2 separate regions of the Homo sapiens genome follow, and region 2 is linked to region 1. The links come from fine-mapping of genetic effects on gene expression. A gene starts in region 1. The other region holds a variant in brackets. All regions are shown on one strand. Distances are between the middles of the regions. Region 1 holds the start of C1D (C1D nuclear receptor corepressor). Region 2 overlaps C1D (C1D nuclear receptor corepressor).

What was found. PIP is the estimated chance that this variant, and not a neighbour inherited with it, causes the effect.
Region 2: its variant is fine-mapped to the expression of C1D in whole blood (TOPMed, PIP above 0.99).

The regions. Positions count from the first base shown.
Region 1 is chr2:68,059,226-68,067,504 of GRCh38, forward strand. It overlaps C1D (C1D nuclear receptor corepressor), which reads right to left and starts at 3,779. Exons shown (of 5, transcript NM_173177.3): 1 at 3,733-3,779. RefSeq lists enhancers at 3,347-4,546, 3,468-3,877, 3,630-4,130.
Region 2 is chr2:68,038,095-68,046,433 of GRCh38, forward strand. It overlaps C1D (C1D nuclear receptor corepressor), which reads right to left. Exons shown (of 5, transcript NM_173177.3): 3 at 8,250-8,316; 4 at 7,894-7,949; 5 at 3,036-4,959. The coding sequence ends at 4,795. Among named protein-coding and RNA genes, the nearest start is that of C1D, 21 kb to the right of the region's middle. The variant A/G (reference allele first, on the strand shown) is at 4,842.

The sequences.
Region 1 (8,279 bases):
GAACTCAACTCATTACCTCAAGGACAAACCAAGACATTCAATCTGCCTCCATGACCCAAATATCTCCCACTAGGCCTACCTCCAACACTGGAAGTGACATTTCAACAAGAGATTTGGAGGAGACACATACCCAAATCATATCAACCTCCTCTTCATAACAGTCTCCATTTTCTTGGCCTAGTGAAACTTATCAATCCTTTAAAACCCACCTCAAATGCTCCCTCCTCTATAAAGGTGTCCATACCTCCCAAACAAAAGTGGTCTCTTCTTCCTCTGCTCCCAAGGTTCTCTGAATATAACTGTAATACAGTTATCACACTGGTGTGCAACTATCTGCTTGACTTAACATTATCACATATCTATCAATAACACTCCTTAAGTTCTTGATAAATCCAAAGGTGTCAATCTTCATTTCACCTGATCCATCAGCTGCACCTGACAAAACTGAACATACTACTCTACTGTAAATTCTACAACACCAGACTCAAAATTGTCCTTGTCCCTCACTGGCTGCTCAGTCTGTCTCATTTGGTGGTTATTCCTCATTTTCCCAACTTGTTAAAATGCCTAAGGACTCAGGCCTTGTGCCCCTTCTCTTTTCTGTCTACATTTACTCCTTTAACGACTGTCTCCGGTCTCACAACTTTAAATACCATCTGTTCACTGACAATTCCCAAACGTCTGTTTCCAGCAATGACCACTCTGAAGTCCAGAATGAACATATTCAACTGCCTACTCAACATCTCCACTTAGATGACTAACAGACATCAAAAACTTATCATGTCCTTAACTGAACTCCGAATCTTCCCACAAACCTGCCCCTCCCACAGTTTTCTACTTCTCAGTTAATGGCAATTCCCTTCTTCTAGTTGCTCAAGCCCCAAACTTTGACAATAACCTTATTCTTACAATTCACTTTCAATCTGTAAGCAATTCTGTTTGCTTTTCCTAGAAAATACATCTAAAATTAAACTGCTTCTCCACCTTCACTTCTTTCCAGCCAGTTAAGATGTTATCATCTCATCTGAACTACAACACCTCCGTGATTAGTCTCCTGGTTTTCACCTACCCCACCCCACAGCAAACTATTCTTAAACACAGCAGCCAGAGAAGATTCTATTAAAACGTGAGTCAGGCTGGGCGCAGTGACTGACGCCTGTAATCCCAGCACTTTAGAAGGCTGAGACAGGCGGATCACCTGAGGTCAGGGGTTCGAGACCAGCCTGGCCAACATGGTGAAACCCTAACTCTACTAAAAACACAAAAAATTAGCTGGGCATGGCGACGGGTGCCTGTAATCCCAGCTACTCCGGAGGCTGAGGCAGGAGAATCGTTGGAACCCAGGAGGCGGAGGTTGCAGTGAGCCGAGATTGTGCCACTGCACTCCAGCCTGAGCAACAGAGTGAGACTCCAAAAGAAAAGAGGGGCGAGATGGGGTGGGGCAGGGCGGGCAAGGGCAGAGCAGGGCAGGAAAGGAAACAAAAGAAAACAAAAGACAATAAAGTAAAATAAAATAAAATAAAACAAACCTAAGTCAGATCATGTCACTCCTCTCCTCCTACCTTTCCATTGGTTATTTACTCACTGGGCTATTGCTCAAGGGAAGATTCATGTCGAGGCACATTTTGAACTCCACATCACTAACATAATGTCTTGTCATGTATTAGTTAGTTAGCAACTATTTGTTTACTAACTAAAACCAATCAAAGTAACCTAAGACGTAATTTTGGAAACTCTTAATATCAGATTACAGTTTGAGCTTACAGATACTAGAAAGTCACCACATGGATCCAAACAAACATACGATAATGTACATTCCAGGGCTCTTCCCATCTCTACACCAAATAATTATACACAGTTATGAACTAAGCCAAAGAACAAATCCAACATGATTGTTTTTTGGAATTTGAGAGCCATTTGCTGTTGTTGCACCAGAATTCTATTACTGTAATGAATTACTGTAATGACTTTTTCGCACTGCATTATCTTAGGAGAAAATAACAATGAAATGTACACACAAGTTCTCAATAAATATTGCTGTCTTGGGCAAACAGTGACTCCATGTTAGTGTTGTCTGTAACTCTCCTTCAGTCCCACAGTACAATTCCTGAGTAAATATAGACTTCTTCCTTTTCTAAAAAATATATTAACATCTAAAAATAAATTTATCCCAAAGTCTAATAGGAGAGTATATAAATTACGAGGATATTGCTCAAGATTGAGATGAACAATTACATTAAATTAAATTCACTTCTATTCAAAGTTTAATTCAAAGCATTTCCAAAATTACAGCAATCAAGCAGCAAAATTACCTTCCAAAACATATGGAAGTTGATTATTACAATTATCTTATTTCTGAAATAAGAGTATATAGTGTTGTTGCACAGATTAAATAAACTAGATAAAAGCCATTAGAACGGGGCCTGGCTCAGTTAGCACTCAATACATTAGATAGTATTTTACTAAAAGTGAAAATTACCAAATACTCTAATCCAATGTGAACTATTTAGAGCCATGCTTGAAGGGTCAACTTTGGAAACAGTAGCTGAGATAATACATATGAAGAGCCATTTGAAAAGGTAAAAGCAGTTAAGAAAAAAATTACATTACTTTTGAACTGTGATACATACAACACAGCTAACTGAAGGCAGCTGTAGTATCTTTTGACTGAGAATTTTATTTTGAAAAACCGTTATTCACACTTGTCACTATCTTTCAACAAAACAATGAGTTCTATCATTTCCACCAAACACAAACATTTCTCTGTACTTCAATAGGGCTAATCTGTTGTTTTTGAATCAAAAATACAGAGTTAAATAACTAAAAGTATAACTGGATTGTTTGTAACACAAAGGATAAGTGCCTGAAGGGATGGATACCCCATTTTCCATGTGATTCTTACATATTGCATGCCTGTATCAAAACATCTCGTGTACCCCATAAATATATACACCTATGTACCCACAAAATTTTTAAATTTAATTTTTTAAAAAATCACGGTTAAGTCTTGGTTCAGTCCACCATCAGACAGTCCTAATAGGTTAATAAGTGGATAGCAAACATCTCATTGCGACAAATACATCTTTATCAAGCCAAAACTGAACTGTAGTCAGCAAACATTGAGGACATTAAAGCTATTTTGAAACAAGTTTGAGTTACACTGAACTTATCCGGGTCATCAAGAAAAACTGCTCTCTTGGATTACCCACTACAGATTTCAGCTAAAGGTCGAAATTAGCCCACTATCTCAGATGAGCTAATACTGCAGCAGCAGGCAGTCTGTGAATGTGAATGATAAACGGAGCTAACACAGTAAAGTTACTCCCCTAGACGTTCCACTTTAGCCTCTCTCCCTAAGCAAGATTGAAAACAGCTGAAAATTGTGAAGACTTCAATGTTTTTTGATTTTTGTTTTTAATTTCTTCGTCTTCCAAGATTTGAGAAGGGGGTGGTTAACAAACGAAGAAAAAGAGAGAGACCGGAGCAAAAGAGAGAAATGAGGGGCCGGGGTAAGCCAAAGCCTGCAAGCAGCCCCAAAACAAGCGGAAGTGGGGGACCTGCCAACAATGCTGCCCCAACGAAGAGCTGTGAGAGACTGCATTCCTGGAAGGCTACGCAGCCAAACTCCGATTTTCTCAGTCTGCCCAGAGGATGACAGGGGAATCCCAGGAGAGGAAAAGCGGAGTTAAACAGGAGCAGGAGAAAAACTGAAACTACACCTTAGAAAAATACCTCACGGCCTTCGACTCCAGTCTCCCGGAAAGCGGTCGGGCAACGATGACGACAATGACGCGCCGGCTCTGCCCCCGCCACGAGCGGCGCTTCCCGATGATCTCACGCTGCTCGCCACGCCCCCTGCTCCTTAACTCTTCTCCAAAGGCAAATCTCATTTTGAGTAGCTCAGACCCATGTTGTGGGAGACGATTGCGGCGGCACTCGGAACTTTTGTCTACCTTTGTACCCGGCTAACACTCACCCCAAATACAGGTTGAGTGTATTTAACCAGGAAAAAAATCTTAGTTATCGAAACTTTGTTCGGGTTTTTACTTTCCCAGAAGCTTTTTTCAGGGCCCTCATTCTTTCTACCCTTTTATTGTCTGCCTCTAGATGAGCCTCTTAGAGCAGCTTCCCAGATTATCCGTGGGGAAGAACAGGTTCTTTATTAGATTATCCGTGGGGAAGAATGGGTTCTTTATTTTTCCAATCTGTCAGTAAAAGGTACTTCTATAAAATACAGTAAAAATGAATTAGTAGAAAAATGGGGAAAATATGTGCAAAATACAAGCCCAAATTTTTTATTAGTTTCAAATAAATGTAAAATTGCATTTCAATGTATGCAATCAGAACAAACATAATAGAAAATAAAGGCATTAACAGAAACTGTACATACTGTTCATTGAAAGTGTAGTATAAGCGATTGAGCATTGTCTTAACATTTGTAACTTGTCATTCCACGGCTGTAATTTGATAAAAAGTTATGCATGAAACAGTTGTCCGTATATTAAATGCATGTAAAAGCATTTTGAACAAGCACCATGTATGTAATATTTAAAGTTTTGGGGGAGGTTCCAAAGTGGCCGAATAGGAACAGCTCCAGTCTACAGCTCCCAGCATGAGCAACGCAGAAGATGGGTGATTTCTGCATTTCCAACTGAGGTACCGGGTTCATCTCACTGGGGCTTCTCAGACACTGGGTGCAGCCCACAGAGCAGGGCGAGGCATGACCTCACCCGGGAAGCACAAGGGATCAGGGAATTCCCTTTCTTAGCAAAGGGAAGCCATGATAGACGGTACCTGGAAAATTGGGACACTCCCATCCTAATACTGTGCTTTTCCAACGGTCTTAGCAAACGGCACACCAGAAGATTATATCCCGTGACTGGCTCAGAGGGTCCCACGCCCACGGAGCCTGGCTCACTGCTACCACAGCAGTCTGAGATCAAACTGCAAGGCAGCAGCGAGGCTGGGGGAGGGGCGTCTGCCATTGCTGAGGCTTAAGTAGATAAACAAAGTGGCCAGGAAGCTTGAACTGGGTGGAGCCCATCGCAGCTCAAGGAGGCCTGCCTGCCTCTGTAGACCCCACCTCTGGGGGCAAGGCATAGCTGAACAAAAGGCAGCAGAAAGTTCTGCAGACTTAAATGTCCGTCTGACAGCTTTGAAGAGAGTAGTGCTTCTCCCAGCACGGAGTTTGAGATCTGAGAACGGACAGACTGTCTCCTCAAGTGGGTCCCTGACCCCCGAGTAGCCTAACTGGGAGACACCTCCCAGCAGGGGCCAACTGACACCTCATACAGCTGGGTGCCCCTCTGAGATGAAGCTTCCAGAGGAAGGATCAGGCAGCAATATTTGCCATTCTGCAATATTTGCTGTTCTGCAGCCTCCGATGGTGACACCCAGGCAAACAGGGTCTAGAGTGGACCTTCAGCAAACTCCAACAGACCTGCAGCTGAGGGTCCTGACTGTTAGAAGGAAAACTAACAAAAAGAAAAGACATCCACACCAAAAACCCATCTGTACGTCACCATCATCAAAGACCAAAGGTAGATAAAACCACAAAGATGGGGATAAATCAGAGCAGAAAAGCCGAAAATTCTAAAAATCAGAGCGCCTCTTCTCCTCCAAAGGAATGCAGCTCCTCACCAGCAATGGAACAAACCTGGACAGAGAATGACTTTGACAAATTGAGAGAAGAAAGCTTCAGACGACTGGTAATAACAAACTTCTCCGAGCTAAAGGAGGATGTTTGAACCCATTGCAAAGAAGCTAAAAACCTTGAAAAAAGATTAGACGAATGGCTAACTAGAATAAACAGTGTAGAGAAGTCCTTAAATGACTGATGGAACTGAAAATCGTGGCACGAGAAGAACGTGACGCATGCACAAGCTTCAGTAGCCGATTTGATCAAGTGGAAGAAAGAGTATCAGTGATTGAAGATCAAATGAATGAAATGAAGCAAGAAGAGAAGTTTAGAGAAAAAAGAGTAAAAAGAAATGAACAAAGCCTCCAAGAAATATGAGACTTTGTGAAAAGACCAAATCTGCATCTGAATTGTGTACCTGAAAGTGACTGGGAGAATGGAACCAAGTTGGAAAACACTCTTCAGGATATCATCCAGGAGAACTTCCCCAACCTAGTGAAGCTGGCCAACATGCAAATTCAGGAAATACAGAGAACACCACAAAGATACTCGTCGAGAAGAGCAACTCCAAGACACATAATTGTCAGATTCACCAAAGTTGAAATGAAGGAAAAAATGTTAAGGGCAGCCAGAAAGGTCAGGTTACCCACAAAGGGAAGCCCATCATAGTAACAGCTGATCTCTCGGCAGAAACTCTACAAGCCAGAAGAGAGTGGGGGCCAATATTCAACATTCTTAAAGAAAAGAATTTTCAACCCAGAATATCATATCCAGCCAAACTAAGCTTCATAAGTGAAGGAGAAATAAAATCCTTTACAGACAAATATACTGAGAGATTTTGTCACCACCAGGCCTGCCTTACAAGAACTCCTGAAGGAAGCACTAAAGATGGAAAGGAACAACTGGTACCAGCCACTGCAAAAACATGCCAATTGTAAAGGCCATCAATGCTAGGAAGAAACTGCATCAACTAATGAGCGAAATAACCAGCTAACATCATAATGACAGGATCAAATTCACACATAACAATATTAACCTGAAATGTAAATGGGCTAAATGCTCCAATTAAAAGACATAGACTGGCAGATTGGATAAAGAGTCAAGACCCATCAGTGTGCTGTATTCAGGAGACCCAACTCACATTCAGAGACACACATAGGCTAAAATAAAGGGCTGGAGGACGATCTACCAAGCAAATGGAAAACAAAAAAAAGCAGGAGTTGCAATCCTAATCTCTGATAAACCAGACTTTAAACCAACAAAGATCAAAAGAGACAAAGAAGGCCATTACATAATGGTAAATGGATCAATTCAATAGGAAGAGCTAACTATACTACCTATACATGCACCCAATACAGGAGCACCCAGATTCATAAAGCAAGCCCTTAGAGACCTATAAAGAGACTTAGACTCCCACACAATAATAATGGGAGACTTTAACACCCCACTGTCAATATTAGACAGATCAACGAGACAGAAAGTTAACAAGGATATCCAGGAATTGAACTCAGCTCTGCACCAAGCAGACCTAGTAGACATCTACAGAAATCTCCACCCCAAATTAACAGAATATACATTCTTCTCAGCACCACATCACACTTATTCCAAAATTGACCACATATTTAGAAGTAAAGTACTCCTCAGCAAATGTAAAAGAACAGAAATTATAACAAACTGTCTCTCAGGCCACAGTGCAATCAAACTAGAACTCAGGATTAAGAGACTCACTCAAAACCGCTTAACTACATGGAAACAGAACAACCTGCTCCTGAATGACTACTGGGTACATAACAAAATGAAGGCAGAAATAAAGATGTTGTTTGAAACCAATGAGAACAAAGACACAACATACCAGAATCTCTGGGACACATTTAAAGCAGTGTGTAGAGGGAAATTTATAGCACTAAATGCCCACAAGAGAAAGCAGGAAAGATCTAAAATTGACACCCTAACATCACAATTAAAAGAACTAGAGAAGCAAGAGCAAACACATTCAAAAGCTAGCAGAAGGCAAGAAATAACTAAGATCAGAGCAGAACTGAAGGAGATAGAGAAACAAAAAGCCCTTCAAAAAATCAATGAATCCAGGAGCTGGTTTTTGAAAAGATCAACCAAATTGATAGGCCACTAGCAAGACTAATAAAGAAGAGAGAATAATCAAATAGACACAGTAAAAAATGATAAAGGGGATATCACCACCGATCCCACAGAAATACAAACTACCATCAGAGAATACTATAAACACCTCTACACAAATAAACTAGAAAATCTAGAAGAAATGGATAAATTCCTCGACACATACACCCTCCCAAGACTAAACCAGGAAGAAGTTGAATCCCTGAATAGACCAATAACAGTTTCTGAAACTGAGGCAATAATTAATAGCCAACCAAAAAAAGTCCAGGACCAGACGGATTCACAGCCGAATTCTACCAGAGGTACAAAGAGGAGCTGGTACCATTCCTTCTGAAAGTATTCCCATCAATAGAAAAAGAGGGAATCCTCCTTAATTCATTTTATGAGGCCAGCATCATCCTGATACCAAAGCCTGGCAGAGACACAACAAAAAAAGAGAATTTTAGACCAATATCCCTGATGAACATTGATGCAAAAATCCTCAATAAAATACTGGCAAACCAGA
Region 2 (8,339 bases), 21 kb before region 1:
CCAGGCCTCTCACCTAGCTTCTGGTGGTTGCTGGCAATCTTTGGTATTCCCTGGCTTACAGAAGCATAATCCCAAACTCTGCCTTAATCTTCACAGGTGTTCTCCCTGTGTGCATGTTGTGTCCCAATTTCCCGGTTTTATAAAGGCATATTGGATTAAGATCCACCCTAATGAATTACATCTACTATGGCCTTATTTCTAAATAAGGATACATTAAGAGGTATTGAGGTGTAGGACTTCCATGTATGAATTTTAGGGGAACATAATTCACGCCATAGAAGCCATTTATCACATGATAAAAAGTTTGACAGCTCCCAACCACTACAACCATGTTTGGATAACTGCTGAATCTCCTATGCCTAAAACAGAACATGGTACACAGGAGTTCAATAAATATTTGTTGAATGAATGAGTGAATAAATGAATGAGACTGCAAGTGAGGGAAAAAAAAAACTGTGGATGCTAAGAGGTTAGCCAAGCTAAATCATTAGCTGAATAATGCCTTCCTGCATGGAATTTAGCAGGAATTAAGATTATGTCTTGGCAAAATTACAAAATAACTCTATACTCCATGGACCTCTAAAAGTCACTCACAAATAGTAAAAATCACAAGTGTTAAAAGTCACAAATGTCAAAACCCACAAAATCCAGCAACTTTTAAATAATTATCTCTTTCTTAAGGGAAAAATAATAAAGTATCAAAACTAGGGAAGCAAATTATTTGTTTAAGTAAGGAATGCATTATTAGTGAGATTAAAGGCCATCAAATGAAAAAAAATACCAGACACACATTAGAACATGGTCTATAGGCAATCCAATGCTCTAGCACTAAATCAGAGGTGATTCTAATTTTGCTATTTTAATAACTAAAGTTTTTTGTGTAAGGTCCAAGACAAATTGTACTCTATAACAAAGTGGGTATAACAAGCTTCTATTCTTTTTACAATAACATTTTTCAACATAGCATCTCAATAGATAATACCTACATAACAAGAAATTGAAGGCATTCTTTCTCTTCCTCCTAATAATCTCATTCAAATCATATCACTATGAATTGCCTGGGTACTTGGCTTTAAAATATTGTATTACTGTAAGCTTGAAATTCAAGCTCTGGATAGGTCTACATTCATTTCAGCAGAAGCATCTTGAAATGCTGAATTATCATCTTCAATTTTCTTCATTTATTGCAGCTGCCAAACTGAAATGGTACACCTTAAAGGCAACACTAAACTGAAAAGCAAATAATAAAAGAGTCTCTTAAATGTTTCATTTATAAAAGCTTATTTTTCCCCCATCAAATTTTGTATACTGTCTGAAATATATCACTTTACAAAACTGACATCTTGCATACAGTTATTCTGCTATGATAGATTTGCTAAACTTCAAGGCTAATTGTGGGGAGAGGGAGTAAAAACCAGCATCTCGTTTCAACCTTTTAAGAACAGATGACTAACACAGAGCTGGTGGCTTTAGGTTTCTAGCTGGGCAGGGAGTTGGGAGATATAAAGTTAAAAATTAAACCTCAATTGCCAATAGCTATCACTATAGCTCTCTCTTTTCTGAACACTTTACTAATCTTTCTGGCTGTGTTAAAAATTATGCCATAATCTCAGACTTCTTGAGGGAATAATAAAAAGTTATGCCATAAATAAGCACTTTAAAAAGGCACATCAAGTCAGAGGGTGGCTATTCTAAAGAGTAGTCTATGGCTGTACACCCACTTTGATAGGAAAATGAATATGCAAACCAAAAAACATTCAAATCATTTTCTTGAAAGCCCGCTAACAGGTAATATAATAGCAAATTATTCAAATGAAACAAATCTACAGAATTCCATTATAAAATCCTGTATACTTTCTGCCAACATAGTTGTTAATGACAACTATAAAATGCTAATATATGAACAAAATATGGCTTGTATTTCCAAAACTGGAGAGTTTTAGATCAGAATATAGGGAAAGATAGATGTTTATATTTGTAAATTATGTTCACGTCACATTGATATAAAATACGTTGCTACCAAGATCATTCAGGAAAAGAGCCACTGAATTTATCTGAGCAGGTTTTCTAACTATGCTATGAAGGGAGAAAATGAGACATCAGTGCTTTTTCTTCCCTTTAGATACCAAATTTAGCTATTACATGAGGCTGAGTCACTGTTCACATCTTTCTTAGTTAATGTCACTTTGCAAAGCCAGAATTTCTGGTAACTTATTGAATAAAATTATAATTTAACTGTATGATAAACTGAGTGATTCCTAAAGTATCTTTTTCTCCAGTGACCTACTTAAGAAAAAAGTATTTACATTCAATACGCTGTCCATTTTTGAAGTCTTTCCTACACTTCTGGTCAATTTTAAATACCTTATTTAGAAATAATGCCAATCCATTTCTAATTGCTAAGTAGAAGGATTTTTTAATCTACAGGGTATCTTAAAACTAATCAACCTGACATAACTTCCTAATTCCAGGAATGTAACATAATTCAAGCTTCAATTTTTCACTCAACATATTCTGTTTTACTAAAAGGATTTCCCACCTTACAACTATGAACAAGAAAAAATTTGTACTTAAAATAATATTAAAATGCAAGATCTCATTATTTAGTACAAGATTAATAGACTATAATTCTAATCTTAAAAATATCTATAGATGCAACTTCTCCAACTTGTTAATTCCCAAAGAGATTAATAAAAGATGTAATTAACATCTAAACTTAGAGCAGACTATCATGTGGAACAAACTATTTTAACAAGAACTGCACCATAGTCAAATAGATCAACCACACACATCACCCTTTATGGTTCTGAATAAGGTTAATGAGCACAATTTGTCATAAATTTTCCCATAACTCTGAGAAACTGAATTGAATAAAAAGACTATTTTTTTCTTAACACCTTATAAAGATAGGATAAAGGCCGTAGTTATCGTCTTTGGAACGTTGCACCTAGCACTGTATCTGGCAATATAAATGTCATTAAGTATATTTGTCAAAAGAATAAACAAACAACAAGCAAATAAGCAACCCAATGCACTACAGCCATTCAGCTCCTTATTACGTGCTAAGTATTTAAAATTATACATAATAAAATGGAATATACTCAAACTTTTATTTCTACCTAATAATGAAAGAATTACTCACTTAAAAGTTACACAATTTAACAGAACGTAGAGGTGCACTTTCATAAACCAATAACTTAGCTAAAACCAATAATGATTTTCTGCAATTGTATAACATTTTTCATTTAAGCTGTTTTTCTTTTATGAAATTAGAAAATATACAGAAATCCAAATAAATTTCTTTGCAATAAATAACACAAAGACAGGTACACTACACTTGATCTTAACAGTAACACATTTCTCTCATGAAGAGGTTATTTTTAAAAATAGCTAGAAATTTGGAGACAAAGGCAAAAAAAGGAGTAAAATAACTATAAATGTTCACTAATGTTCTTCCACTTCAAAAACTGACATCAGAGACAGAAAAGACCTTCTGCGTCTATCAGTGACTTCCTCTTCATGTGTCATAGAAAGAGTTCAACATGCTTTACAAAATCCATTACATTTTAAGACCATTTCCAATATCTGCTATCATAAATCAAGAAATCCATTTATTCAAGGTTACTTATGGAGAATTAATCACACAGAAAATTTTAACAACTCCTTTTTCAAAAATTAAAGTACTTTACTATACTTGGCATTCCTACACATAATGATATGGATTCAAACACTGAAAGCATTAAGGGCATATAATTAAAATTCATGGGCTTAGACATTTAAAAAAAGGTTTACTATGTAGTACTCTCTGTAACTAATATTCCAGAAAAATAAACCACAATACAAACACAGTGTAATCTCCTTTGGACTTCTCATCTGCTTAAGTGGCATTAGGTAACTTAAGAAGTTGTTCCAAAACACTTGTATGTACTTGATACAGCCTCAAAAACATGAAATAAAAAAAATCTGAAAAAAAATGAGATGAAAAGAACTGTGGACACCATGCATCAGGAACAAAAACTCAAGAATTTCTCTATTTGTGATGACTTCTAAAACCTATCTTCCTAATTTGGAAGGCAAATTTACTCAAAAGATAAAAATACACAGGTCAGTTATACAACATTTTCAGCCTTTATTGAGAGTACAGTCATCATGCCAAAATTCATCCATCAACATACAACCTTATTTCCCATCTAAAGTTAATGAGAATGTATTTTATTTTAAATGGGACATAGAGGCAACATGCCAAGAATTAAAGTACAACCATAAAGTTTTAGTTTCACACTTTGAATATCAACAAAGCAGTAATTCCTAAAATCATGAAAACATGATAAAGTATCTATACAGAAAAAAATGAACATTTAAGTCATTTCACGCTTTCTTAATATCATATAGTGAAAACAGATGTACCTATAATTTCAGCCTACAGATAGCATACTTCATAAGGTCATTATTCATTTAAAATAGTACAAATGTTTACAAAGAACATTTCACTTAAATTTCACAGCTGCTTATAAAATGGTACTTGCAAGACTGACCTATATAAAGAAATAAGAGTCTCATCAAGAGATGGTAAATTATAAATATATAATATATCACAATGTTAAAATCCTCAGTGCTAATCAATAAAGATAATGATCTTTGGAGAGGAAAGTATTTAGCTTTACATATTTACTGTGAATTTACATATTAATAAGAAACACATTTAAACCTTGCCCTGCCACAGAATTATTTTGCGGGGGGGGGGGGGGGGGGGAAGATGTACTTTTTGAATATGTGTACATCAAAACCAAAAAGTTAACTTTTACTTTTTCCTTTATTGGCAACTTTTGATGCATTTTTCG[A/G]TTTTGGTTCCCAGAGGGCATTTTTTACAAATCTTGAAGCTGCACCTCTGTCCAGCTTGCCAGCCTTTTTCTTGTCTGTTATTTCCTTGACTCTGTTCATATATACTCTGATTCTTTCCTTAAAGATAAAAAACAAAGGCAATAGATTTACTAAGCTATTCGCCACCACTGAATTTTATTATACTGTACACCTTGGTTAAATTCAACATATATGTATTTATTGCCTATTAAAGTGCATGGTGCTAGGAAATGCAAATGAATAGGATAAATACGCTCCCTGCTTGCCTGGAGTTCATAGTCGGAGGGTGGGGAAAGACAGATGTTAAAAAGTCATTTCAGAAGTCTTCTGTTTCCAAAGAGTTAGAATCACACTAAGACATTACTCCAGAAATAAACATCGAATTGAAAGTTTCTAGGTGGTTATACATTTTTGAAAAACACCATTAACATAAATCTACATATTAACTGTTTTGTATCTAAAGTAAAAAACCGGAGCTTTCATATACTTGCAAAATACAAACTAAATTCTCCTGAAATTTTTCTAAACAGGAAATACATGAGGTAGTACTTAACTATCTTTTCACATTACCATCTAGTGTAACAATTAGGGAGAATGAAAATACAAATTATTCAATTTTATAATTTTGGTAAGTACATGAAATTTTCTAATAAAATATACAGTTCTAATCAGACTTTACAGGGTGAGAAACATAATATGTTGCTGTACCACTGTGAATCTTCTGAGACAATTAATCAGCATAAATGGCTATCTTACGCTTCAAATGAAGAAATAAAGTTGATGACAGCCATAAAACAGCAGAGTAAAAGACTGATCACTGCTTAAAAACAAGCTTTATTAAAATAATCAACATAGTTAATGCAGAATCTTAAAATGTTTTCATTGTGAAAGACTGGCAACTCTGCTCCACACTCTCTAGTGACGTCCCATTTCTGTCTGAATAAAAAAGCACAGTGCTTATGATGGTGGATACTAGCTACAGCACACACACACCAACCTGCCTTGGGGTCTTTGCCCTGCTTATTCCTCTGCCTAGAAGGATATTTCCTCAATTACCCATACGGCCACTTCCTCTCTTCCTTCCAGTCTACTCAAATGTTAACCTTGTCATTGAGGCCCTGACTTCAGCATTTAAAACTGCAGTCCTATCCAAGCACTCCAGTCCCCCTTACCCTACTCTTTTTCTTTGTTCCCATAACTTTCCAACATACTACATATTCATATATATTTCTTATTTGTTTACTTTATTATTTGTCTCCCTCCATTAGATACAGTCTGGTGTCTGCCACAAGGGCAGGGATCAGCATTACTCACAGAGGAATCATCTCTCACTTGGAAATAATGCCTAGCTCCCAGTAAGCACTCAAATATCTGTTGAATGAGTAAACTGACTTTTCCCATTTGTGATACATACGGCAAATAAGTTTCCTATCATACACTAAGTCTGTGATCAATTAGTAACATCTACGCAAGGTCAGAAAAGGGGAACAGGCTCTGTAATCCCAGCACTTCGGGAGGCCGAGGCGGGCAGATCACGAGGTCAGGAGATCGAGACCATCCTGGCTAACATGGTGAAACCCCGTCTCTACTGAAAATACAAAAAATTAGCTGGGCGTGGTGGCAGGCGCCTGTAATTCCAGCTACTCGAGAGGCTGAGGCAGGAGAATGGTGTGAACCCGGGAGGTGGAGCTTGCAGTGAGCCAAGATCACGACACTGCACTCCAGCCTGGGCGACAGAGCAAGACTCCATCTCAAAAAAAGAAAAAAAAAGAAAAAGAAAAGGGGAAGAGGTTTATGCATGCTTTTTATTCACCAACCCTTATCTAGAATATTAATGTACTACTTCAAAAGTAGATTCTGAGGTAGAAAGAAAACAAATGACCTTGTCCTTTCACAAAGACAGTATCAAGTATTCCAAATAACTTCATGTTAATGGAAAAAAGAGAAATTGTATGCAAAGTCTATATTAGGAAGTTGAAAACAGATGATACAAGCCATCATTTTAAAGGTTTAAAGCCGTATCACTGGTCAAACCAAGACCTGCATATCATATTGCTTTATACTTTTGCTTTAAATATTTTTCACAATTGTTTTATTTAAAAATAAATTTATTTTCCCCCCCAAGAACTTCAAAATAAGGAAATGTCTTAGACTACATGTTGAAAAACTGAAGACAACAGATCTGGCTTACTCATTTTTAAAAAGTAAAGGACCAAGTGCTTTACTAAGCTGTAAATAACATACATATCAACTACCCTAAAACTTGAGAACAAGAATACAATGTCAAGTGTATTTCATATCTATATTTGCCTTATATTTTATAAACACAAAGAATCAATTTATTAATATTCTTATTCATAAAACCAAGTCAAGAAGGTAACCATAAGTTTGATTTCTAATTTTTCTCTTCAAATTGAATGATTTGATTTAATTTTTGAAGTCAGCAAAAACTCCAAGATACCAGACCTTATATACTGTACTTATACATCTAAATGGAATACAAAGACAAACCTAGAAGATTTATTACAGGTTGTAAATATGTCTAATGCAGAATTACTGGACAGTACACATACAGCTGGTGCCAAAAAAGCTTTTAGCTTTGTTGCTGAACTGGATTCTTTACTGCTGAGAAAATGAATTAATGGAGGAATTGAAAAGGTGGGAGGGAGAAACTTTCCCGTCTTTGCTAGTAAATCAACTAGAATATACTTTTAAGAACTGTACAGAAGTTTAAAAAAAAAAGTAGTTCTAGAGATAAACAGGATTTCAAGAATTTATAAGAAAAATAATATGTAAGTTATAAATAATTACTAGAATCGTAACATTTTCCCATTCCGAGATTTATATAATATATGGAATACCAATTATCTGAAAAAGGTAAGAGAAAAAAAAACCCAAAGATAATAAGGTCTGGCTCACTTTCATAATTTCAACTCGAATTCTGTTCTCCCTAATTTGTGTGACAAAGGTAGTGTGACAAACCTCAGGAATACAACAACAAACACATAAAATAAAAAGAAATTAAAATCTTACCAATTCCTGTTTTACTGGATGTTCCTTAGGATTAACTCCTTGGGTTGCCAAATAAACTACAAGAGAAAAATTTCATGGAATAAAATGGTGAATGTATTAATTTAAAACATTCCAATTAAAGAAACTAGTTATTCACAAAAAAGGAAAGTCCTACAAACAATTAAACTTTAAATTATTCAATTTCCATGTAATACTAAATCTATGTGTGGCTCACTGGCATCTAGATTTAAAAATAAGTATCTATTAAAAGTGTTATAAAGTATAATTGTAAATAAATTGTTAGCATTTTAAAAATAAATCATCTTTCACACAATAAGTAATTTGCTTTCTAATTAATTCCAAAGTAACACACATACCCCAAAACATTGAATTTAATGTGTATGCAGAAACCAAATCCACTTTTGCTTGTTCAAGTGGATCCAACTGTTAAAAAAGAAAGAGAGAGG